Linked DNA regions of Homo sapiens. The protein of the gene in region 3 interacts with the protein of the main gene of each other region in a pairwise test. Each region holds a gene or a part of one and is shown on either strand. Other genes may lie near its edges. The genes, in order: TMEM167B, UBE2J1, TM4SF19, GOSR2, BNIP1, CTXN3 and SYS1.

The links.
Region 1: the proteins of TM4SF19 (region 3) and TMEM167B interact in binary tests that used the Homo sapiens proteins (3 or more experiments, as listed by UniProt).
Region 2: the proteins of TM4SF19 (region 3) and UBE2J1 interact in binary tests that used the Homo sapiens proteins (3 or more experiments, as listed by UniProt).
Region 4: the proteins of TM4SF19 (region 3) and GOSR2 interact in binary tests that used the Homo sapiens proteins (3 or more experiments, as listed by UniProt).
Region 5: the proteins of TM4SF19 (region 3) and BNIP1 interact in binary tests that used the Homo sapiens proteins (3 or more experiments, as listed by UniProt).
Region 6: the proteins of TM4SF19 (region 3) and CTXN3 interact in binary tests that used the Homo sapiens proteins (3 or more experiments, as listed by UniProt).
Region 7: the proteins of TM4SF19 (region 3) and SYS1 interact in binary tests that used the Homo sapiens proteins (3 or more experiments, as listed by UniProt).

The regions. Positions count from the first base shown.
Region 1 is NC_000001.11:109,093,764-109,097,434, forward strand, and holds the end of TMEM167B (protein kish-B isoform 1 precursor), read left to right. Parts: intron 1-653; coding exon 654-736; coding exon of another isoform or gene 737-816; 3' UTR 817-3,171; downstream 3,172-3,671. UniProt on the Homo sapiens protein: Involved in the early part of the secretory pathway.
Region 2 is NC_000006.12:89,335,723-89,339,222, reverse strand, and holds part of UBE2J1 (ubiquitin-conjugating enzyme E2 J1), read left to right. Parts: intron 1-679; coding exon 680-764; intron 765-912; coding exon 913-1,018; intron 1,019-3,500. UniProt on the Homo sapiens protein: Catalyzes the covalent attachment of ubiquitin to other proteins. Functions in the selective degradation of misfolded membrane proteins from the endoplasmic reticulum (ERAD) and is essential for cells to recover from ER stress.
Region 3 is NC_000003.12:196,331,889-196,335,388, reverse strand, and holds part of TM4SF19 (transmembrane 4 L6 family member 19), read left to right. Parts: intron 1-3,500. UniProt on the Homo sapiens protein: Negatively regulates vacuolar (H+)-ATPase (V-ATPase) activity by interacting with members of V-ATPase V0 complex and hence inhibiting V1-V0 complex assembly. Required for multinucleation during osteoclast differentiation.
Region 4 is NC_000017.11:46,929,660-46,933,159, forward strand, and holds part of GOSR2 (Golgi SNAP receptor complex member 2), read left to right. Parts: intron 1-1,439; coding exon 1,440-1,548; intron 1,549-2,407; coding exon 2,408-2,540; intron 2,541-3,500. UniProt on the Homo sapiens protein: Involved in transport of proteins from the cis/medial-Golgi to the trans-Golgi network.
Region 5 is NC_000005.10:173,147,531-173,151,030, reverse strand, and holds part of BNIP1 (vesicle transport protein SEC20), read right to left. Parts: intron 1-3,500. UniProt on the Homo sapiens protein: As part of a SNARE complex may be involved in endoplasmic reticulum membranes fusion and be required for the maintenance of endoplasmic reticulum organization. Also plays a role in apoptosis.
Region 6 is NC_000005.10:127,647,848-127,651,881, forward strand, and holds the start of CTXN3 (cortexin-3), read left to right. Parts: upstream 1-1,234; 5' UTR 1,235-1,541; intron 1,542-3,895; exon of another isoform or gene 3,896-3,974; intron 3,975-4,034.
Region 7 is NC_000020.11:45,366,156-45,369,709, forward strand, and holds the end of SYS1 (protein SYS1 homolog), read left to right. Parts: intron 1-719; coding exon 720-960; 3' UTR 961-3,054; downstream 3,055-3,554. UniProt on the Homo sapiens protein: Involved in protein trafficking. May serve as a receptor for ARFRP1.

The DNA.
Region 1 (3,671 bases), on a different chromosome or scaffold from region 3:
AAATTTTTTTTTGAAAAAGGACAAAATATAAACAAACAGTATATTCACCTAGACCCTAAAGCATAAGGATAGCATTTAGAAACATCTCAGAGGCCGGATGCGGTGGCTCATGCCTGTAATCCCAACACTTTGGGAGGCCGAGGAGGGCAGATCACCCAAGGTCAGGAGTTCGAGACCAGCCTGGCCAACATGGTGAAACCCTGTCTCTACTAAAAATACAAAAATTAGCCAGGGAGCCGGGCACGGTGGCTCACGCCTGTAATTCCAGCACTTTAGGAGGCCAAGGTGGGTGGATCACCTGAGGTCAAGAGTTCAAGACCAGCCTGGCCAAGATGGTGAAACCCCATCTCTACTAAAAATACAAAAATTAGCTGGGCATGGTGGCAGGCGCCTGTAATCTCAGCTACTCAAGAGGCTGAGGCAGGAGAATTGCTTGAACCCGGGTGGCAGAGGTTGCAGTGAGCCGAGATCGCGCCACTGCACTCCAGCCTGGCCGACAGAGTGAGACTGCCTCCAAAAATAAAATAAAAACATCCCAGGCCCTTGAGAGCGTTGATATGTCTGTCTGTGACTAGAGACTTCAAAATATCACCTTGAAAGTGAGGACTTCGGTGAAGGGCAGGGTGTGATTTCTTCTCTCTTTTGCCTGCTAGCCGCTGTGATTGGAACCAGGCTGCATGCTGCTGTGGCAATTGCTTGTGTTGTAATGGCCTTTTACGTCCTGTTTATAAAATGAATTCCAAAGCACCCAAGTCATCAACTGCCAACCAAGGGGACGGGGATGAAGAACCTGTTGGAGACCTGAACCCAGTGTAGGAGAGTTCAGCTGAAATCATCGGTCCCCAGGATGACACCACAGCATCTGCCCCTGCTATATGTGGGGAAAACTCATGGTCACGAACATTATTTATGCTTCAGGGGACTACAGAAAGCCAGCTTCCTTTGATCTATGTGTAAATCAGTCCTTGGCAGAGTGCATATAATGTCCGGATAAATTACACCCCTCGGTGATAAGATTACATACCTCCTTCATAAAAACCTGTCATCCTGTTTTGTTCTTCAGCTCCTCATCAGGATCTTTTCAAACTGAGGCTCATTAGGGAAGGAACTAGGCTGTGTTCAGACTTCTTTTGAAGAGAGAGAATTTTCAAGACTTCTTTTCACTCTTTGATTTGGATCTGGCAAATTGGGGAGGGGATGCTGGGTGGGAAACAGTTATGAAATGCCAAGAAATTCTTTGGCTTTAGAAATTTATCTTTCATGTACCCATCCGGGAACATAAAAGAGAGGCATAGTGCTCATTGCAAAAAGAGAACAGATGAAGTAGCTGTGTTATGTGCTGGTATCTTGAGAGTTTTGCCAAGAAAATCTGGGCCTACATAAAATTTGAGAATTATCTGTGTGATGAGACCAGAAAGCAGTGGCTTAGACAAGAAAAAATCTTTCTGTTCACCAGTATCCTCAAATGGAGACTTCACTTGATCAGATGGTATATGAAAAATGAATCAACTATTGCTATTTCGTAAAACCTTTTTATATTTTCTAAATTTACTTAGTGCTAAATACTGTTACTCAGTTTTAAATGCCACGACTAGGGGAAAAAGAAACTATTGAAGAAATAATTGTTTAGTATATTTGCAGTTGGGGTAGAAGAAAGAAATCTAGTATATTGATTCATATACTAGTAAATTCATCTAGTATAAGAACTTGTGATGTTAGATTGAAGTTTTGTCATCTTATAAAAGACAACAAACTTATTTTCTGTTTAAGTCTGAGTGTTATGGCAATTTTTAGTTGATTACTTATTTTTCTTAGCCAAATTTTAATTTTCTTCATATTGCATTGCTCTTTAGTTGTCTCTGGAAATTCTATTTACTTTAAGGACATGAGAAATTCAAATGAGAGAAGTTGCTGATATTCATCAGTGTGTTTGGACAGTTCATAGGGTCCACAAATCAAATGAGGTTGTTTCCTGAAGTAGAAGAAAACAGAACTTTGCAATTGATACTGAAGTACTTTGCCATGGAGTTAGTAACTCCTGAGCAGACCATTTTAGATGGCTCAGCATTTGGCAGGAAGACTTCTCCATTCCCTGCTTATATCTATGGAAGGATCAGCTGTTGGATGTCTAGAACTTCTCTATTTAAAAAAAAAGAGTAGGTCTAAAATTAAATTATTATAAGCAAGCATAGACATGGGTCTTCCAGTTGAATTGTCCATTACCGTAAAACTTAATGGTGGACAAGTTAGCTGTGGTTGATTCCTGTGTGGCAGTAAATTGTCTTCTGTCTGCTTACTCCAAATAATAAAAGCTGCTAGGAAGTTTAGATTTTGAAATAGGCAGTTTAATGCTTTGAGGGTTTCTAGAAATACAGAAAGTCATCAAGTAAACACTGCATGTCTAATCATCTCAGAGTTGTGGCTGTTATCTCTTCAGGAATTGGTCCACAGGGTAAATTTCAACAATTCATACGTTTTCCATTGTCATTTCTGAGGACCTTTGAGATGAGAGAAAGGAAATCTAGTGGAACAGGAAAGAGAGTTACACCTTGTGGGTGTGAGTTTGGGACCTGTTGGCAGAAGGGAATGTCACTCCCTGGAAACAGGTTCAGCATGTTTGCACTTGTTATTTTGTAGCTTTAATGATTTTTGTTTTCTAATAGGGCAAATGTCTCTAAGCTTGGTGTTTAGAGCTGCTTCATATTTTAAACTAGTTCCATTCCACAGTTCTAGTTCAAACCAGTTTTTACAGCCTCCTGGGTGGGTCGTCTTGACCCAAACTCTTGTGTTGTTACATTTTGAGAGGTTTTCATACCAGAATGTACCAAAAAGTGCACAAGGTAAAGGTAATTTACAGCCAGAAACAAATATACATTTGTTTCATTTCTTGACTTTCCCTAAGCAGATAAGCAGAAACTTGTTTAACTCATTACTTTGTTTGATGTGTCTTACATATTTTTGACTAAAAGTTATAGAATGTTATTCCTCTGGGGGAATCTTTTACAGGTGGAGGAATGGGGATAGCAGTATTGCCTCAGATTCAAACTGGCATCACCATAAACCCTGTAGGCCAGGGTGGAATGAAGTCAGCTCCTTTTTATAGTTGAAATACAATTTTTTATTCACCATTGTCTGCACAAATCCTTGAAAATAAACCTTTTTTTCCCTACAGTCTTTGTCAATTTATTTGTCACATGCTGAATTTATTGAAGTTTGTTCAGTCCTCCCCTGGGTTCAGTTCATAGCCTACCTTTTTAGTTCACATTAGTAAATACCATCATTCCTGTTATCCCATTGTGAGAGCATTGAATGTATTATATAGTTAAGAATCTATGATGGCCTAGTTTTCTCCTTTAGGGCAGCTGAGACAGATATATCTAGAGATATCTATAACTAGATATATATATGTATATATGATATGCTGAGATATATATAACTAAATATAAATGCATGTAGTAAGTTTTCATATATATACGAATAAGATATTCATATATATGTGAATGAATAAGTATTGAGGTATATGAATGAAATAAGGTAGATAGCACCCCCAATACATTCCATCTGCTATTGCTATTAAAATACAAGTATCATCTGCTCTAAACAGTCATAAACATCTTCATTCAAATGAAGTTAACAAGTTAACCAGCCAGACACCTAGAAAATCCTTGAGC
Region 2 (3,500 bases), on a different chromosome or scaffold from region 3:
GAACTCCTGGCCTCAAGTGATCCTCCTGCCTCAGTCTCCCAGAGTGCTAGGATTACAGGCGTGAGCCACTTCGCTGGCCAGTAAAACTTTACATGTTAATTATTTAGATTTCACTTGTGCAACTCAGTTTCAAAAGGTGCTGTAAAACACCTTCTAAAAACAGCTTTTATTATTCAGCATCCAACAAGTATTTTTGGAGTCTATAAGGACAAAAAATCTGTGTCCCATGAGAGGTTACATTTAAAAAAAAATCTTTTTGGCCGGGCGCGGTGGCTCATGCCTGTAATCCCAGCACTTTGGGAGGCCAAGGTGGGCAGATCACAAGGTCAGGATATCGAGACCATCCTGGCTAACACGGTGAAACCCCGTCTCTACTAAAAATACAAAACATTAGCCAGGCCTGGTGGCAGGCGCCTGTAGTTCCAGCTACTTGGGAGGCTGAGGCAGGAGAATGGCGTGAACCCGGGAGGTGGATCTTGCAGTGAGCTGATATCACACCACTGCACTCCAGCCTGGGTGACAGAGCGAGACTCCATCTCAAAAAAAAAAAAAAAAAAAAAAAAAACAAACTTTTTAAGATAATCTCTAAAATTATTATATATAAATAGTATATTTTTACAGAAAGTATAAACATTAAGCACATGTATTTAATTTTCTAAATGCATTGTTTATTCCTCAGGCTAATGGTCGATTTGAAGTGGGCAAGAAAATCTGTTTGAGCATCTCAGGCCATCATCCTGAAACTTGGCAGCCTTCGTGGAGTAGTAAGTGTTAATTTATAGTGAATATAAATCTCATAACTTCAGTCAATTCATAGTTATGAAGTATAATACTCTGATTTTTTCTTTTTCCAGAATAAACCCAGTTGCTTTTACAAAGCAATTTAGATTGATATTTACTTTTTTATTTCAGTAAGGACAGCATTATTAGCCATCATTGGGTTTATGCCAACAAAAGGAGAGGGAGCCATAGGTTCTCTAGATTACACTCCTGAGGAAAGAAGAGCACTTGCCAAAAAGTAAGTTTTGCATTTCATTCTTCTTGAGGTCTGAATAGTATTCAGGGTAATGGCTATTAGGAGGTAGGGCCTACCTCTTACTATGTGACTTATTTTCTGAGTGACTGTAGCTACAGGATCTTATCTCAGTTTTGCTCTTTTAGGAATTCAGTTGTAATAATTTCCTTGGAGTGACCAGAATCTAAGTAATTTATTTAATGCTATCTAGTCTTAAAAAGTAGTTGATACTATTTCACTATTTTTAAAAAATTCAGTGGGAGATATATTCTCCTGGAAAACAATACCAGTCATTTGTTTCCACTATGGCATTATAGATGGAAAAGAACCAGAGCAATTATTTGTAGCTTTCCACAAGATTACAAACCTCTTGAGGGCCAAGAGGTAATCCACTTTATCCATCTTTGCATCTAGCTCATAGCAAGTGCTTAATAAATGATCTGGAATAAAGCAAAAGAGATTTTATCAAGTTGTGATTGCCCAGTGGCAATCACAAACAGAGAAGTGATGCCTTCTCTGTTTTTTTCAGGTGCAGGTGCACTTTTGTCTATATGACCAAGATCAGTCCTTCCATTCAGAGTAGCCCCTCTTTGAGTAGTGCTGATACCTAATTTTTGATGTTGATAATTTTTCTGCTCTGGAGTCTGCTGCCTACCACCCTTCAGACATATTATGTTAATTAAATTATATCATATTTTACCCTAGCACACCCCAGAGTAGGCCCTCTACAGATATTTGCTAAATCAGTTAGATTTTAGCATCTGGAAGATTTGGTAGACTTCTTGGTCTTATAAGCAACTTTTCTTTTTAAACCTTATTTCCAAACTATGGGTATGTACTTTATTTATACAGCTCTTCATAGATTACACTATGTACTTTGAATACATAGTATTTGTTTTCATTCGATTTACTACGTTGGTTTTTTTATCTTGATGCCTTTATCCAGTTGATTTCATGTGCGAGGTAAAAAAAAAAAAAAAAGAACTGGAGTTCTTGTTCTTCTAGGCTTCTCACTGTATATTCTAGATTCTCAGTCTATAATAGAAACCTTTTAAAAAATGATTTTGGGCCGGGCATGGTGGCTCACACTTGTAATCCCAGCTCTTTGGCAGGCCAAGACAGGTGGATTGCTTGAGTTCAGGAGTTCGAGACCAGCCTGGGTAAAATGGCGAAACTGCAGCTCTACAAAAAAATACAAAAATTAGCTGGGCGTGGTGGCACGTGCCTGTAGTCTCAGCTACTTAGAGACTGAGGTGGAAGGATTGCTTGACCTGGGGAGGTTGAGACTGCAGTGAGCCATGATTGTGCCACTGCACTCAAGCCTGTGGGACAGAGTTGAGACCTTGTCTCAAAAAAAAAAAACAAAGATTTTTGCATTCAACCGTGGTAGCATGCTACCATTGTGGATAAACTAATACATTCAAAATAAACACTCCCCTTAAGGTTCATCTGACTCAGTTAAAAGTGAATACATTTTGAAGCAAATAATTTGTATATAACCAATTCTCAAAGGTGTGTGGTCAACAGTGCCACTTCTGGTAAAACAAGAAATACTCATCAATAAATACTAAATTAGGCTGGGCACAGTGGCTCATGCTTGTAATCCCAGGACTTTGGGAAGCTGAGGCAGGAGGATCGCTTGAGCCTAGGAGTTCTGGACCAATCTGGATAACACAGGGAGACACTGTCTCTACAAAAAAAAAAATAATAATAAAATGAAATAAAAAAAAAAAATAAAATAAAATAAAAATTAGCGGGGTGTGGTGGCACACACCTGTGGTCCTAGCTACTTGGGAGGCTGAAGTGGGAAGATCACTGGGGTCTGGGAGGTTGAGGCTGCAGCAAGCCATGATTGCACCACTGCATTCCAGCCTGGGTGATAGAACGAGGAGACCCTGTCTCAAACAAACAAACAAACAAACAGAAAAACTAAATTATTGCTACTTTTACATATATTTTGTTTATATGATATTTCATAATTTTAAATAGCATGTTCTTCAAGACCTAAGGTTTTTTAATAGAACTAGAAGTACTATGAAAAACAATTTTTTAGAAGGAAGTTTAACAGTGTAACAATATATGTTTTATATATGATGCATGTTTACTTTCAGTCATTCATATCCTCAGAGGACTCTTGTAAACTTCAAGGAAGTTTTGACTATATCTGGAATACAAAGGGAAAAATGGAAAAACAAATATATTTTAGAAAATAATCTAGTTAACAGACATATCCTGAGTCTCTACCTAATGTATAATCAGCAATAAATTAAGTCTTTGGATTTTCTGCAAGTTCTCCCAAGTCTTTCAAGTTATACTGCTATTTGTGAGGGGTTTTTTTTTCCCTAGAAATATCTGTAAATTCTATGTTTAATTAGTTTCTTTACTGCTTTATATATATTTCTGCTAACAGATAATTTGATCTTGTTAAAGGACTTTTTTCACAGCCTTAAAATAGGTTTGTTATATGTGATCTCAAGGACAGTAT
Region 3 (3,500 bases):
GCACCCCTCCCCTCTCCTACCCCCACCCTCCCAGTGCACCCCTCCTCTTTCCTACAACCCCTCCCCAAGCACCCCTGCCCTCTCCTGCCCCCACCCTCCCCATGCACCCCTCCCCTCTGCTACCTCCACCCTCCCCGTGCATCCCTCCCCTCTCCTACCCCCACTCTCCCTGTGCACTCCTCCCCTGTCCTCTGGCCACCCTCCCAGGGCACCTCTCCCCTCTCCTACCCCCACCCTCCCAGAGCACCCCTCCCCTCTCCAACCCCCACCTTCTCAGGGCATCCCTTCCCTCTCCTACCCCCACCCTCCCAGTGCACCCCTCCCTTCTCCTAACCCCCACCTTCTCAGGGCATCCCTTCCCTCTCCTACACCCACCCTCCCAGTGCACCCCTCCCTTCTCCTAACCCCCACCTTCTCAGGGCACCCTTCCCTCTCCTACACCCACCCTCCCAGTGCACCCCTCCCTTCTCCTAACCCCCACCTTCTCAGGGCACCCTTCCCTCTCCTACACCCACCCTCCCAGTGCACCCCTCCCTTCTCCTAACCCCCACCTTCTCAGGGCACCCTTCCTCTCTCCTACCCCCACCCTCCCAGGGCACCCCTCCCCTTGTCTTCTTTACCATAAGCTACAGTCTGGCCGGGTTTGGTGGCTCACACCTGTAATTCCAGCACTTTGGGAAACCGAGGCAGGAGGATCACTTGAGACCAGGAGTTCAAGACCAGCCTGGCCAACATGGTGAAACCCTGTCTTTACTAAAAATACAAAAATTAGCCGGGCATGGTGGTGTGCAGCTGTAGTCCCAGCTACTGGGGAGTCTGAGGCAGAACAATCGCTTGAACCGGGGAGGCGGAGGTTGCAGTGAGCTGAGATCGCGCCACTGCACTCCAGCCTGAGCGACAGAGTGAGACTCTGTCTCAAGAAAAAAAAAAATTATTTATCCTGGACCGGGTCTGTTTCTGAGCTCCAGCCTGGGAGACAGAGCAAGACTCCATCTCAAAAAAAAAAAGAAAAAGAAAAGAAAAGCTACAGTCTTGAAAAATGGAAAACACCCGACTAAACAAGTTTCTAAAACAATTCTGAGTTCCTAAGTCGTAAAACTGTTTTTAAAAGGATATGTTGAAGATGAAATATAGGATAGTAGTTCCTAGGAAGGAATCCAGAAAGAAGGCAGGATTGGAGAGGGCACACCTGAGTGTCAGTGATGTGATGGGTAATGACGTATGTTTGATATTGGTTGTGTTTACATGGGTGTTAATTATCTCACACAAGTTACAAATATATTTTACACATTATGTTTAATTCTTTTTTAATGCAATTTTTTTTTTTTGAGACGGAGTCTCGATCTGTGGTCCAGGCTGGAGTGCAGTGGTGCGATCTTGGCTCACTGCAACCTCTGCCTCCCAGGTTCAAGTGATTCTTCTGCCTCAGCCTCCTGAGTAGCTGGGATTACAGGCGCACACCACCATTCCCAGCTAAGTTTTGTATTTTTAGTAGAGATGAGGTTTCGCCAGGTTGGCCAGGCTGTCTTGAACTCCTGACCTCAAGTGATCCACCCGCCTCGGCCTCCCACAGTGCTGGGATTATAGGCGTGAACTACTGCACCTGGCCTTTAATGCAAATTTTAAAAATATAATTTCAACTTTTATTTTAGATCCGGGGATACATATACAGGCTTGTTCCGTGTCTATTGTGTGATGTTGAGGTTAGGGTATGAGTGATTCCCGTCACTCAGGTAGTGAGCGCGGTACCTACAGATAGTTTTTCAGCCCTGGCCCTCCCCCAATGTTTAATTCTTCATGCTGTGAAATATTTCATTATTTATGTGTGATGTAAAGTAATCCCCCCTTAACTGAAGCTTTGCTTTCCAAAGTTTTAGCTATCTGTGGTCAACTGCAGTTCAAAAAACTTACATAAAATATTTTCAATGAGAAAGACCACATTCACATAACTTTCATTACAGTATGTTGTTATAACTGTTCTATTTTATTATTATTGTTGCGAACTTCTTACTATGCCTGATTTATAAATTAAACTTTATTACAGATATGTATGTATAGGAAAAAGCATAGTACAGACAGTCCTCTACTTATAGTGGTTTGACTTCTAAGTTTCCAACTTTACGACAGGTTTCTAGGGACCTAACTCCATCATCAGTGAACTCCTTACCCTTTATGATGGGATTACGGTTTCTACTGAATACTCATTGCTTTTGCACCATCACAAAGTCAAAAGTAAATTGGGACTGGGCGTGGTGGCTTACGCCTGTAATCCCAACATTTTGGGAGGTGGAGGTGAGAGGATCACTTGAGGCCAGGAGTTTGAGATCAGCTTGGGCAACATAGTGAGACCCTGTCTCTATAGAACTAAAACATTAGCCAGGTATGGTGGCGCATGCCTGCGGTCTCAGCTATCCGAGAGACTGAGGTGGGAGGATCACTTGAGCCCAGATCAGGGCTGCAGTGAACAATGATTGTGCTACTGCACTCCAGCCTGGGTGACAGAGCAAGACCCTGTCTCAAAAAAAAAAAAAAAAAAAAAATTGTAAGTTGAACCATTGTGAGTCAGGGACAGTCTACTGTGTTGCCAGCATTAAATGCCTTTTGAACTTAGGATATTTTGACTTACAACGGGTTTATAGGAGTTCGACCCCATCATAAGTGGAGAAGCATCTGAATATACAGAGTTTGGTATGATCTGTGGTTTCAGGTATCCGCTGGAGCTCTTGGAACATATCCCCTGCAGATATGGGGGACTATTGTGTGTGTGTGTGTGTGTACGTACACACATATATACGCACATTATACATTATATGTATATGATATATATGTGTGTGTGCATATATATAGAGCCTCTGATCCATATCTTTTATATATATATATATTTTTTTTCTTCCCTTCCCCTTCCCCTTCCTCTTTCCTTCCTTCCTTTCCTTTCTTCCTTCCTCCCTCCCTCCCTCCCTCTCTCCCTCCTCTCTCTCTCTCTCTTTTGCTCTGTCACCCAGGCTGGAGTGCAGTGGCGTGATCTGGGCTCACTGCCACCTCTGCCTCTCGGGCTCAAGCGATTCTCCTGCCTCAAGCTCCTGAGTAGCTTGGATTACAGGCGCACACCACCACGCAGTTAATTTTTTTTTTTTGAGACCGAATCTCACTCTCTTGCCCAGGCTGGAGTGCACTGGCGTGATCTCAGCCCCCCAGGTTCACGCCATTCTACTGCCTCAGCCTCCCGAGTAGCTGGGACCACAGGCACCCGCCACCATGCCCAGCTAATTTTTTTGTATTTTTAGTAGAGACGGGGTTTCACCATGTTGGCCAGGTTGGTCGGAAACTCCTGACCTCGTGATCCACCCACCTCAGCCTCCCAAAGTGCTGGGGTTACAGGCGTGAGCCACCGTGCCTGGCCTCTATACACATATTTTCTGATTAGGTGCAAAGCAGTGTGTTATAGGCGTGTCAAGAGCCTCAAGTGGCCAAGTGCAGTGGCTCACGCCTGTCATCCTAGC
Region 4 (3,500 bases), on a different chromosome or scaffold from region 3:
CTCTGCCTTGGGGGCTTAATGATTCAGCGTGGAATGAGTTTTGTTGTTAGGGTGGACAGAAAAACCCTATGGCAAAGTCACTGATTTCCCTGAGTGTGCCCTTTGGAATCCCACAAGTCTTATCCCCCATTACCCCTCCACTCAACCTGACATGGCCCTATGGGAATGGAAGCGCTTGCCTCCATCTATCTTAATCTAATTACCTAGTCCTTAGAGGAATGTACTCCATAAAAATTCAGAGATGTTTAACTGGAATTGGCCATTTCTTCTGAGCTGAGAACTGTGGCTTTTTAGGAGGATTATTCAGAAACGAACAGCAATATTAATTAGTTTAGTTCCCACAGCATGGTTTCTTTTGAGAAGCATGCTGGTTTTTTGTTTTTTTTCATTTTTTTTTTTTTTTTCTATTCTGAGGAAAGGTCCTTTTTCTGAGTTGGTCATATGGACACCACCTGCGGGGGCTGCCTACCCACCCCACTGCTGGGCTCCCTCAGGACCCATTCCTCCTGTTCTCTCATGTCTCCTTTCGCAGCTTCAAAAGCAGCTCTGTTCTTGGTTCTGTGCCCCACCTTGTTCTAATCTCAACTGTCTTTGTTCACTGTGGGCACAAAGGGCTAGGAAGGGGCAGTGTCACTGCTGTCACTTCTTTATGGGGCAAGAAGCAGTCTGGATGCTTTCTTTTGTGCACAGTTTAGCTTCTTTGTTCATCGGACTTTGTTTGCCTTCTCAGCAATCTCATTGTTACATGATTAGAAATGGAAAGAGGTCATTTTGACTGTCTTATCGAAAGGGATAGGGAAAATGACCGTATTTATCGTATCTCTTTACCTCTGTGGATTCTTTCCTGGGCCTTTCCTATTGATATTTGGTTTATTTTGGGGACGTCAACATTGCTCAGCCCACCCATTCTTACAGAAAGCTTTAAGGGAAGAAAGCCTTAAGGGAACTCTTCTCTGTATGTTTCACATACTAATCTTCCCCTTCCTTTATGCTTTTTTTTTTTTAAATAAAAAAAAAAAAACTCATTACTATAGGGAATTCAATTGGCAGCCTTTTTCTAGGTATTTATAATCCACGTCTGAGAATCCCAAAGGAAAAGAGACCTATATCAGAAAATTTAGCTTAAAGTATTTATTTGGACAACCTTTGCATGTTTATTTTCTAAAGGTAGGAAATTTATTTCTACAGATTTACCTTCAGCTTTTTTAAAAAATTGGCATTGTTATGTCATTAACAGCTATATACATGTACTTTTTTCAAAACAACATTTACGGCCTAACTTGAATTTTTTCTGTTATTCATTAGTGTATACATTTTTCTCCTTTTGAAATATGTAGTTCTAGTTTATTGGATATTGAAAAAAAAATCTGTGATTTATCATTGTAATTTAAGTTCACTATCTCTTTTCCAGCAATTATTCTTTTTTCTTTTTTGTACAGTAGTAGAAAACGAAATCCAAGCAAGCATAGACCAGATATTCAGCCGTCTAGAACGTCTGGAGATTTTGTCCAGCAAGGAGCCCCCTAACAAAAGGCAAAATGCCAGACTGTAAGTGCTGACCTCTGACATGGCTCTGATACTCCAGGCCCATCAAGACAGGCTTTTCTCCCTGGGGGAGGTGATAGAATATTCTGAAAACCAACGTACATGTTGAAAAACTATGACTATGCAAAGAAAAAGCCCCCTCAAAGGGCACAATTCTATCTGAGTGATGCCGCTCAAAATAAATAGCCTGTGAGGTTTGTGACTCAGAAACCTTGTGACCCCTTACCTCTTTGGTGTCATTTTGAAATTTTGCCTCCAGTTCTGTTTTTTGACTAGATCCATAGCCACCTGAAGCCTAATGTTGCCATGGAGTTTTGTTCTGCTCTTTGGTTCCTGCTGGGTTCTTCTTGGGTTGAAATGAAAAATCACTTCAATCAGTCCACCCATAATGAAATGCTGATCTAATGTTTGATACTCCAGCATGAAATTAAAATGAAACCACCCTTGCCACCTCCACCCCCAGCGCCTGTTTCCAAAAGTTTTATGAAACTTTGTGGATGCTTTACCTCAAAGATGCCCTTGGGCTTCTTCCAGGAGAGCCATATAATCCATAGAAGGTCAAGAAGAGGTCAGTGAGCCTGCTTCCTGTCCCCTGTTCTCTGTCATGCATCCAGAATCAGAGCAACAGATTCTGAAGTCAAGCTGCTGGAATCTTGTGTGCTACCATCTCACTTTAACCACAAGTTTCTTCTTGACTTTCAACATCGTTGATCAAAATTAGATCTTGTGGTGAGGGGGTATAGTGTGGGGTGGTGTAGGGAGAAGTAAGGAAACGCCGTCTTTCCTCAGTACAAAGCCTGGCCCCCTCAGATTCTGCTGCCCTGAGTTCCTGGAATTTAATCTCTCTCTCCATCAATTCCAGTCGGGTTGACCAGTTAAAGTATGATGTCCAGCACCTGCAGACTGCGCTCAGAAACTTCCAGCATCGGCGCCATGCAAGGGAGCAGCAGGAGAGACAGCGAGAAGAGCTTCTGTCTCGAACCTTCACCACTAACGTAAGCCAGGCCCGTGGTGAGGGTCGGCCTGCACTTGACAGATCGTGGGGGCTGGAGTTCAGATCTCTGAGCGCCATCTGTTTTGGGGGTGTCTGAAGAAGACTGATGATGAGGAAACCAACTGGAAATGACAGGAACTTTGTGCATTGCCACAGAGACTAGACCTAGACAGAGAATCCCTTTTTCTAAGACAAAAACCTGAAGAGGAAGCAGTTAAATTGAAGGGGAATAGGCAGAGGTGAAAATTACCTGGTTGGGCTGGTCTGAGACAGAAAGGTGGAAGTTCACATGGTGGAAACGTTTTTCTGATCAGATAGAGACAGATGATTAGAACTTAGGCCATTTGTAGAGAAGGCAGCATTTCAAAGCTGCCTGCGGGCAGTTGCCATTGTGCCGAGTATGTGTGTGGCTCCAGTGTCAGGTGCATTAAGATGTTTTTGCCCCTAGTCTGAGCAGCAATTTGGAGGAATTTGTTAACAGATGTTTAGGGTTAGATGGACTGCTTGCCTGAGTCTGTCTGAAAGTGTGTTGGTTTGCATGTTTGATTTTTCAGAACCCATTGTCCCTGCCCTTTAGTCTTAACCAGATCATTTCCTGCACATGGCTGTAGAACATACTGGCCTTTTCTGTGTCCTGCATAATATATTCCACTAAATGAAGTGTGCTTTGGCTTTTTGTATTTTGTTTTTTTACAGAGGATTATTTTCTAAAGAGATGTTAGCTTTCTAAGCCAGTTGTTAAAATTCACATCATTTCCTGCTTTGTAGATGTTTAACCCTCAATGCTGCATCCTTGCTTTGCAATAAATTTTCCCAAGTGTTTCAGGCTGTGCCAACATAGTTTTTGCTTCCCCAGACTAAGCAGTCAAGTTACAGTGTTTAACAGTTCAAAAATTTAATGAACTATAAGACACACTAAAAGATGTTTGGATTTTAGATCGTTATAATGTAGTATTCAGGC
Region 5 (3,500 bases), on a different chromosome or scaffold from region 3:
ACTCCGTCTGTACTAAAAATACGAAAAATTAGCTGTGTGTGGTGGCACACACCTGTAATCCCAGCTACTTGGGAGGCTGAGGCAGGAGAATCGCTTGAACCCAGGAGGTGGAGGTTGCAGTGAGCAGAGATCACACCTGCACTCCAGCCTGGGAAACAGAGCCAGACTCCGTCTTAAAAAAAAACAAAAAAACAAAAGTATAAAGTTTTTAAAAGCTGTGTGTTAGTATGCTACTTTTTAGATGAGAAACAAGGAAGAAATTTTAAAAAAAAAGAAATTTGTCTTTTTAAATATTTGAGTAGAGAAACTCTGGAATGACATATCAGTAACAAAAGTGGTTACCTGTTTGGAAGAGTGGAACAAAAAACAAAACTGGGGCATAACTGAGACTTTTCACTGAATGTTGATACTTATAGACAGACACATACATAAAACATGTAAAAGGAACATCTTTTCAAAAATAAAAAATTAAGATGATTAAATCAGTACTGGAGATGAAGGCAGGAAGAGATCAGCTAGGTATGGTGACGCTGCTGAAAATCATATAGTTAACTCCAATAGCAAAAATTACACATTTTCAAAATTGCCCTTGAAAATCTCTGAGGTAGGCAAACACAGGACACAGACATACTGTTTCTCAGGGGTCCAACTGGCCAGCTTTTCTACCAGCTTTAGAACAGACTGTCTTCCTCTGTTAAGCAACAACAGAGTTGCTGGTGGGCTTTGGGGGCCATGTTATATGAAAAGCACAAGTCTTTTTTTTTTTTTTTTTTGAGACAGGGTCTTGCTCCGTCACCCAGGCTGGAGTGCAGTGGCACAATCTTGGCTCAATGCAACCTCCAACTCCCAGGTTCAAGCAATTCTCATGCCTCAGCCACCCAAACAGCTGGGATTACAGGCACGGGTCACCATACCCAGCTAATTTTTATACTTTTAGTAGAGATGGAGGTTGACCATGTTGACTAGGCTGGTCTTGAACTCCTGGCCTCAGGCGATCCACTCGCCTTGGCCTCCCAAAGTGCTGGGATTACAGGCGTGAGCCACTGTGCTGGCCAAAAAAGCTCAAGTCTTTAGACCTGATATAGTCTGAATATTTGTCCCTGCCCAAATCTCATGTTGAATGGTAATCCCCAGTGTTGGAGGTGGGGCCTGGTGGGAGGTGTTTGGATCATGGGGGTGGATCCCTAATGAATGGCATAAGTCATCCCCTTAGTGGTAAGTGAGCTCTCACTCAATCTCTCTCTTGCTCCTGCTTTTGTCATGTGACATGCCTGCTCCCTTTGCCTTCTGCCATGACTGGAAGCTTCCTGAAGCCTCCCCAGAAGCAGATACTGCTATGCTTCCCATACAGCCTGCAGAACCTTAAGCCAATTAAACCCATTTTTTTAAATAAATTACCCAGCCTCAGGTATTTCTTTACAGCAATGCAAGAAAGGCCTAATACAAAACCCCAATACCACAAGACCAGGTGCCACAAGACCCATCCAGGGATGGTGATATGGTTTGGCTGTGTCCCCACCCAAATCTCATCTTGAATTGTAACTCTCACAATATGTCATGGGAGGTACCTGGTGGGAGATGATTGAATTACAGAGGTGGGTCTTTCCTGCACTTTTCTCATGATAGTGAATGAGTCTCATGAGATCTGATGGTTTTAAAAACAGGAGTTTCCCTGCACAAGCTCTCTCTTTGCCTGCTGCCATCCATATAAGACGTGACTTGCTCCTCTTTGCCTTCTGCCATGATTGTGAGGCCTCCCCAGCCATGTCAGAAGTCCATTAAACTTCTTTTTCTTCCCAGTCTCACGTATGTCTTTATCAGCTGCATGAAAACAGACTAATACAGATGGGCAGATCCATGACACCCACCTCACCCTCACTGAAGGTACAGCAGGGGAAACATCTCCACTATTCAAACTGCTACTTCTAAGAGACCTCCAGAAGTCTAGAGGAGCAGGCATGTTTCCACACTCAGGTACCTCCTGACTCTCCTAGGTCCCACTAGGGCAGAGTAAGTGCTAGTTCTCTGCCAACCCAACATTAGGTCCTGTGGCTGCAGTGAGAAGAATTCCAGGAGAAAACTCAGGAATAAAAATGGAGAACGTAAGACATCAGACTGAAATTACTAGAAACCCTCAGGAAATAAAGAAGGAAGAAGAAACCAAGAAACCAGAAAAACCATCAGAACAGTAATCAACCCTTGGAGTGACCAGGAGATCCAGAGTTCCCTAAAAGAATGCAATTATCTCAAATTTGAATAACTGAAGAAGAATCATGAACAATATAAAGCAACTGCCTAGTGCTTCAAGTAGAGGGGCATGAAGAGGAGCCGGCAGGAATGTCTCCAGATAATGACAAGTTTGCAGGACTTTTACTGAACTACTCATGAGGCTAAACAGAGGCCAAGGAGCCAACCCTGTTCCTGTCCTCAGGGAGAGGGCCTACACAGGATTCCAGGATACAGATGGACAGCATCTTTTTAAGTGTGCAGATGCAGTCATCCTTCCAACTCCTGAGTTCCAGCCCTGGGCCTGTGCCATCCCTATTCACTTTGAGGGGCTGCTGTGGGCCCCTCTACCCATGAGCTGCATGCAGGATCCTTGGATGCCCAGATGGCAGCCTTGAAACATGACCCCTCCATAGTCAGCTCCATACGTGTTTCCTCTCAGCAGCCCCCAGACCCACAAGTGGTCTTCATCCTCTGATTCTGATCTAGATTCTGAACTTGGAAACAATTAGAAGCTGAATCCCAATTCTGTCTGAAAGCAACACAATAGTCTGGGCTCATGCCTGTAACCCCAGCACTTTCAGAGGCTGAGGCAGGAGGATTGCTTGAGCCCAGGAGTTTAAGACCAGCTCAAGCAACATAGAGCAAAAAATCCATCTCTATTAAAATATATATATATATATATATATATATATATATATATATATATATATATATATATTTTTTTTTTTTTTTTTTTTTTGACACAGAGTCTTGCTCTGTCACCAAGGCTAGAGTGCAGTGGCACGATCTCTGCTCACTGCAACCTGCACCTCCTGGGTTCAAGCGATTCTCCTGCCTCAGCCTCCTAAGTAGCTGAGATTACAGGTGTGTGCCACCATGCCCAGCTAATTTTTGCATTTATCAGAGACAGGGTTTTGCCATGTTGGCCAGGCTGTTCTCAAACTACTGGCCTCATTTTCATTTTTAAAAATGAAAGCAACAGAATAACATGATCTATACAGTGGTGCACAACTCTTTGCCCAGCCCAATGTAATAAGAATAAAATGTGAAATAAATAAAACAAACAAACATAACTGCTACTTGTCACCCTCTAGTGTTTTTTGAGACAGCACATATACCATACTTGAATTCAGGCATACTAAATGTGTATATGATGTGACTGGTGACTATTGAAATAAGGAAGATGCTGAGCAAAGTAACAGCATAAAAAAAAACCCAGGAGTGTGATGGATTGAGGTAGTGAATGAATGAATAGGGTAGAAAGAATGGCA
Region 6 (4,034 bases), on a different chromosome or scaffold from region 3:
ATGCAAGAGGGATGCCAGTTAGTACAGGATGATCGTGCTCAGTTGGATTTCATGTGTCCCATTGTCTTACGGTGTGTGGTATGTGTGTGTCTGAAAATAGGGTAAGTAAAATGAATTGGAAAGAAAATTCAGTTAAAAATTAGGAAAACAAATGGGGAAAGAACCTGCATATTGTCTTGAGGTTAGACTCTAACATCAAGCATTCGATCCTAACATTTAGCATTTGATTTGAAAGGTTCCTTTGGGGTCCGAGGCCTATCCTATCCAGGATTGTGGTCCGTTGTGAGCAGATGGGGTTTCCCTCTTAGAAGATGAGCTTGGTTCCAGTTTCCTAGAGCCTTTGGGTAATGGCCGGTTGCTCACAAGAGCTGAGGAGACAGCATAGCTGACAGGCACAGTCAGAGGCAGCTTTAAATATCACGCACCCCATCATTTGGTGGGTGGGTGTGTTGTCGCTAACTGTGCCGCCACTTCAACAAAGAAAGTGGTGAGTTGCCAAAAAACAAGGATGCTCCGTCTTAAGCATTAGGCTGAATTCTTCTTAGAGAAGTGTTTTTTTAATGAAGAATTTTATCCTAAAATATTTTCCAAATTTACTTATCCAACGAAAGTAATTTAAGCATTGTAGCAAGTAACTAGAATCTGCAGAATGAGAACAACTTTCTCTCACAAAAATCAATCTTCTTTATTCATCGAGTGGTCTCAGGTGCCCTGTGTGGGGTGGGGGCTTTCCCAATGCCACAATTATGCAGGCTGCTCAGAGAGACACTGGACCTGGCAACCAACTGCCCAGCTAATTTACAAGCAGGTGACAGGTGGTGAAACTATGATTTTGATATTTTTAAATGGTTCTTTCCTTCCCATAAATGCTGCTTTTTGGAAAGGTCACTTTAGTTTTCTTTAGGAAAATGAGCCTTTTCTCCCTCTCCCAAATGCTAAGTTGATGCCCTTCCCCAGAAGTCTTCCTGTTAATTGAGTTGGCCTGAAGGTCATCAACAATAATCAATATGAAGACTTGCTGCGACGTGCTAATTGACACTCCCAAAGAGGAATAGTGTCAACAATCAATAAAGAGGACAGAGCACTGGTAGATTTATGGCTTTGATTTTGAAAAGGTATAGGAATGCCTGTGATGTTTCCCCACCCCCCAACCCCGTACTCCTTTTGAATGTTAATGCTTTCTTGAAGATGATTTCAGACACACTGCTAGGATACTGCCTCTACTCGCTGAAGCAGAATCCTCTGAAGAGTTGCTGAGGCAGAACTGAAATCATGGCTCACCTCAAAGAAGCAGCAGTATTGGCCGTTAATGATGCCTCACACAGAAAGACGATGCTCCTTTAACTCGGGGTTTTAATGGGAAGTTTCTAAGCCTGAAACAACAGCTTTAGACCTGGGGTGTGCCATCAGCTGCCTTGCAGCTACCACTGTCTACTGCTTTCACACAGCGTGGTCGGGAAGAATGGAAACTAAAGAGGCTTGTAACTACCTGTAACTGTTCCACCAGGAAATGGATCAAGTGTTTGTTCAGCCAGAGCCAGGTACTTGACCCAACCTGTATCTTTGACGGGCTAATTAAATGCTTTTCTCTAACTTTACAATTGATGCATGAGCAATCATCGCATACATGCCTTTCGGATCATAGTTGTGAATTTAGATCTAGCTGTTAGATAAGTCTAATTAAACAATTGCTAGATAAAGTTAAGAAGCGAGGGGGTAAAATGTAATGATGCCTTTATTTTTAAAGCATGGTTAAGTTTATAATGTTATTGATACTGGATGAAGAAGTAGTAAAACAGGCTTTTTTTTCTTTCCTAAGCTGCAGTAATTTATTTCTGAAAGCTGTTTGCCCATTATCGTATTTTTTTTTTCAGTCACCTAAAACGTCCAACCTTCCAAAATGTAACAAGGATGTTCTGATTTGTTTACAAAGGATCACAACTCAACCACTCATATTGACAGCGTTGACTGTCCCTGGCTGATAAGCTGTGTGCAGCACTATCCTTTTGAGATATCAGCAAGTAGCCGTTTTCACTATGAAACACACAAAGAAAGACAAAGAAAACCAGGTGGAACAGTAGGGCTTATTATTTGAAGTTAAAAGTTCCAGTTCGTTAAGGGTGCCTTCTGATACCACCGATTCCTGACTAGGCACCCTCATGGTGTTTTCTGATGTTCTCAGCTAGGCAGTAGCCTTGCCCTGCAGTCCCTTAAAAATTCCTCAAGCAGATATTAAGAGGAAGATGAAGATGGGGAAGAAGTAAAGCTGAGATTGGGGCTGAGGCTGAAGACAAAGGTCTCCTGCTGACCCAGAGCTTAAAAGCAGCAGTGAGTTGAGAATAACAGGGTCCACTCCCAGCCCAAGCAGACGTGTCTGCAGGCTGACTTTGCAGAAACAAGCAGAGAACAGACTTCCCAGTGCAGCAGTGGGGGCTGGCAACAGTTCTGAAACTGCCTGTTGACATCTGTAGCTGAAGACATCCTCATGTTTATGAAATCATTGTTCGTAGGCTTTCTAGTAGACTTGAGTCTATGTTTTGAGAGTATAAAATATATTTACCCTTAGCCCCCCTTTGAATTTTGAAGCATCAGGGCTATTGTATTGGAACAGGAGGGCTGTACTTGGAAAAAAATATAGAGATGTTGCCGTGTATATGAGCCAAAAACAAGGGGAGTGGGAGGATTTAAAATCTATGAAACACCTAGAAAGAGCCAGGAAATCTTTACCTGAAGTTCTTTGCTGGTAAGCAAGAGGGCCATGAATTCTTTGAATTTATATGAAATATTTTGTATCTTTGTGTGTATATCCTGAATGCAAGTTACTGTTCACTAGAATAATACACAGAATTTCTAAAAGATTTGTAGGGGAATAATATTTGCTTATGTGGTGATTCTGTTGCTTAGATAACGAGGTGGCTTATACAGATGACTCACAGTTGTGGTGGGGATGGATAATAGGATCATTTGGGAGATTTACACATCTAGGGTGGGTGAGTGGGTTGGAGAATGAAATGTACTTTGAGAGACTACAGTTATACAAACAGGAATGCAGCCCAGGCTTCCTTTAGTGCTAAAAGTAGAGAGGGATTCTATTTAGGCTCAGTATCAGGATGTGTATTACTTGAATCATTCAAAGCCATGTTAACATTTCCACAGTTAACTTCAGAACTGTTGCAGAATAATGCAGCATTTTGAGTAAGTTTGTCTCTGTTGGTCACCGCAAATTCAGTCCTGCCTAGCTAGGCAATTCCGTTCCTGTTAAAGTCTAAAGATTGGTCTCGCTAGTCTGCCAGATAAATATAAATAAGGTTGATAGTATATCTTTGCAGGATAAAGTGTCCTGTCTATCACATGTGAATGGAAACTGGACAAGCCCAAGAGTGTCCTTGCTCAATGGATGGGCTGTTTTGACACCTACTTTTGAAACCACGTCAAGTCACGTAACTAGGTTTCTGATCCAGAAGTTTTAAAAATTAGGTACTGCAATTATGTGGTTTAGGAATATTTAAAATACAGACAGCATTGCTTCACTGCACCCTACAGGCCGTTAACACCTGAGGGATGACACCTTCAATTCATTCCAACGTGCCAGTGAAAAACTAGGGATCTACCATCATTTGGCGTTGGGGTGGTAGGGGGTGGTGCTACCTTTTTGGTAACGATTTTTATAATTCTGGGCAGTTTATTTATAATTTTCATACCTTAGTGTGCTTGATCACATAATAGAAATTAAAAATAAATAACATTTTGCACAAAAATGGTGTAAAAAGAAAACACTCATTCATCCCCACCTACTTATCAAATCCCCACTATGTGCCAGGCAGGACTACACAGGTACTGCAACTATTAATTAGATCATTGCACCCTATTGCAAAAGGGTGGGCTCTTGAGTTGATGACCTGTAGAATCAAGTCCCTGTGTGTGGCTCCACAGAACAAGGTGTCCAATGCACTTAAGTAATTCTGTCGCTGTCACTTAAAAAAAAAAAAGAAAAGAAACATGTCATTGCTTTAAGATACATTTTCTTCAGAGAA
Region 7 (3,554 bases), on a different chromosome or scaffold from region 3:
GACTCATTTGGCATTGAACCTCAGCTTTACTACTAGTCTAGTGACTTTGGACAAGTTAATCTACCACAGTTGCCTCATCAGTAAAATGGGGCTAGTAATATTACCTACCTCATAGTTGTAAGGATTAAATAAGTTAATTCACAAGAAGGACTTAGAACAGTGCCTTGCATGTTATTATTATTCTTGTCCTTACACCGGAGGTTGAAAACTGGTGGGCTGACTTTGACCTAAATTTGTCTTCCAGATAGGTTCTATTTGGCTTACATAGATGTCAGCCCACACATGGTGTTTAAAACATTTTTTTCACTTAGTTGAAAATCAGGCTATTTTATATAAAAATCCAGATTTCTGGCTTCTCTTGAATAATGGAATGACTGACTGATTCCAGGCCAACCTTCTAGCATGATAAGATTTGCCTAGATGCAAGTAGCTACTGCCCCCCTTTAGCTAGAACATGTATGCTTCAGGGTGTCATGATCCCCACCAATTCCTAGGATCCCCTAGTGACAATTGCCATCGATCATCAAGCTCATACTCAGTCAGCTTCACTCTTGACATTACCCGCCAGGTTCTTCTAGGCGTCTGGTATCATAACCCTTGCTTCACACTTATCTCGTCACTTCTGACCACTATGCTGCCGTCCTAATTGTCCCTACCCTCCCAAATAACCTAAGGCCAGGACAACCCAGTGACAACTCACTGCTGTCCTCTCCCCACAGTGCCCTGGGCTTGCTGTACTTCATCCGGCGAGGAAAGCAGTGTCTGGATTTCACTGTCACTGTCCATTTCTTTCACCTCCTGGGCTGCTGGTTCTACAGCTCCCGTTTCCCCTCGGCGCTGACCTGGTGGCTGGTCCAAGCCGTGTGCATTGCACTCATGGCTGTCATCGGGGAGTACCTGTGCATGCGGACGGAGCTCAAGGAGATACCCCTCAACTCAGCCCCTAAATCCAATGTCTAGAATCAGGCCCTTTGGACATCCTGCTGACACTTGGGCCCCTTAACACCTTGGGCTGCTCAGACCCTCCAGATGAGGTCCAGCCCAGATCTGAGAGGAACCCTGGAAATGTGAAGTCTCTGTTGGTTTGGGAGAGATAGTGAGGGCCTGTCAAAGAAGGCAGGTAGCAGTCAGCATGACAGCTGCAAGAATGACCTCTGTCTGTTGAAGCCTTGGTATCTGAGAGGTCAGGAAGGGGACCTCTTTGAGGGTAATAACAGAATTGGAACCATGCCACTCTTGAGCCACAATACCTGTCACCAGCCTGTTGTTTTAAGAGAGAAAAAAAATCAAGGATATCTGATTGGAGCAAACCACTTCTTTAGTCATCTGTCTTACCCCCCTGGGACAGCTGTTACCTTTGCAGTGTTGCCGAATCACAGCAGTTACCTTTGCAGTGTTGCCGAATCACAGCAGTTCTGTTGGAGAAACGCTTGGTTTCCGGATCCAGAGCCACAGAAAGAAATGTAGGTGTGAAGTATTAGGCTGCTGTCAGGGAGAGGATGGCAGATGGAGGCATCAAGCACAAGGAAAATGCACAACCTGTGCCCTGTTATACACACGTTCATGTGCACCCAAGAACCTATGACTTTCTTCCAGTTCCTTCTACCAGGTCCCCATCCTGCTGCCAGCTCTCAACATAGCAGGCCATAGGACCCAGAGAAGAATCCCAGCGTTGCTCAAAGTCTAACCATCATAAAGACACTGCCTGTCTTCTAGGAATGACCAGGCACCCAGCTCCCACTGGACTCCAATTTTTTTTCCTGCCTTATTTAGAATTCTTTGGCGGGAAGGGTATGATGGGTTCCCAGAGACAAGAAGCCCAACCTTCTGGCCTGGGCTGTGCTGATAGTGCTGAGGGAGATAGGAATTTGCTGCTAAGATTTTTCTTTGGGGTGGAGTTTCCTCTGTGAGGGGCTTGCAGCTATCCTTCCTGTGTATACAAATACAGTATTTTCCATGGTTCTGCCTGCACTTACTTTGTAATGCCACGGTTGAGATTGAGAGAGATCAGCGCAGCCAGGCAAGGGAACTTTAAAGAATTATTAGGCCACCTTCTCCCTTTCCTGGACCCCAGAGTCATTCCTCCATTTGGTTAAAATACTCAGTGCAGGGAACTCTTACATCCTGTCTCCTTCACTTGCAGCGTCCCCTGCTATGCCTCAGGTGAACCACATAATTCTTGGGTTTCCGTTCCTACTTGCTAGTGATTTCTGAACATGTTCAATGGAGCGGCACACAGTCTAGACCCACTTCCGCATTGAAACCTTCACTGTTCCTCTTTGGTTTCTTCAGAGCTTTCCCAAGAGAGCTGTCAGTTTTCAGCTGTCAGTAACACAAATGAGTTTATGGTAACACAAATGAGTTTTGCTATCTCTCTGAGAAGCTCATCTGACCTCCTGACTCTCAGCCCTACAGAGTAGGGAGTTGATGCTGACAGGATGAAGATTTAGGAATAAATATGCCTGGGAAGAGACTGGGAAGGTTCTAGGGTGAGGCACCTCAGTAACTCATGGTACCTTGGCCAAGTTGGAAGGAAGCAGTTTGTTAATGAGGCACAGTAATCCTGGCTGCAGGGTCTAGGAGGTAAGACCAGCTGGGATGACCTTCCCTGGGTTAATCAATTTCCCTCTAGACAACACAAACTGCAGGCATGTGACTAACTTTGAAAGAACACCCATCATGTGGCTGCTGTCACCCTTGACCAGCCGTGGTGGTGGTTACTCCATCTGTGGTTGGAGCGCCTCTTTGGGATTCACTTCAAGGTCTTGTGCCTATTTTTCTGCATATCTTCTGTGATGACAAATCTCTGTCCCCTGAGTGTTAATTTGATTTTTAGAAATGGCCAAAAGTCACGTGATCCAAACTTTTTTTCAGTAATATGGAGACTGAGCTGCATGGTAGTTGGGGATCAAAAATATGTGACCTTAATGAGATTTTTATGATTTCTAAAGTAACAATAAAAGCAGTTTTTAGAGTTGAGTTCCAGAGAGGGCAGGGCAATGGCAGTGACATGTTTGTCATTTTAATAATAAATAACATCTATTGAGTGCTTAAGAGGTGTCCAGCAGTGTGGGCTGAGTGCTTTATGTCTCTTTTCAAAATCTTCACAAGAACCCTCTGAAGTAAGAAGTAACGTCATCTGTATCTTACAGATGAGGGAGCTGTAAGGAACTTACCCAAGGTGACTTTTTAGGAGCTGGCAGAGCCAGGATTTGGGCTCTAATAGTGATATTAATAAGCTCATTTTGAAGAGGTCAGTAGTTAGGGATGTATAAGTTCTGACTGGCTAAACAGTCTGGTTAAATAGTTTATCACCTTATAATCATATCTTCTTGTCCTGTCAATTTTTTTAAATACCGAGGATGAATAGTACTTTATAAACATTACTAGCTTTCTAAGAAAAGCTGATATGCAGTACATTAAATATAGCCAGAGATTTCCTTTTTTTTTTTTTTTTTTTTTTTTGAGGCAGGGTCTTACTCTGTCACCCAGGCTGGAGTGCACTGGTGTGATCTTGGCTCATCATAGCCTCAACCTCCCAGGCTCAATGATCC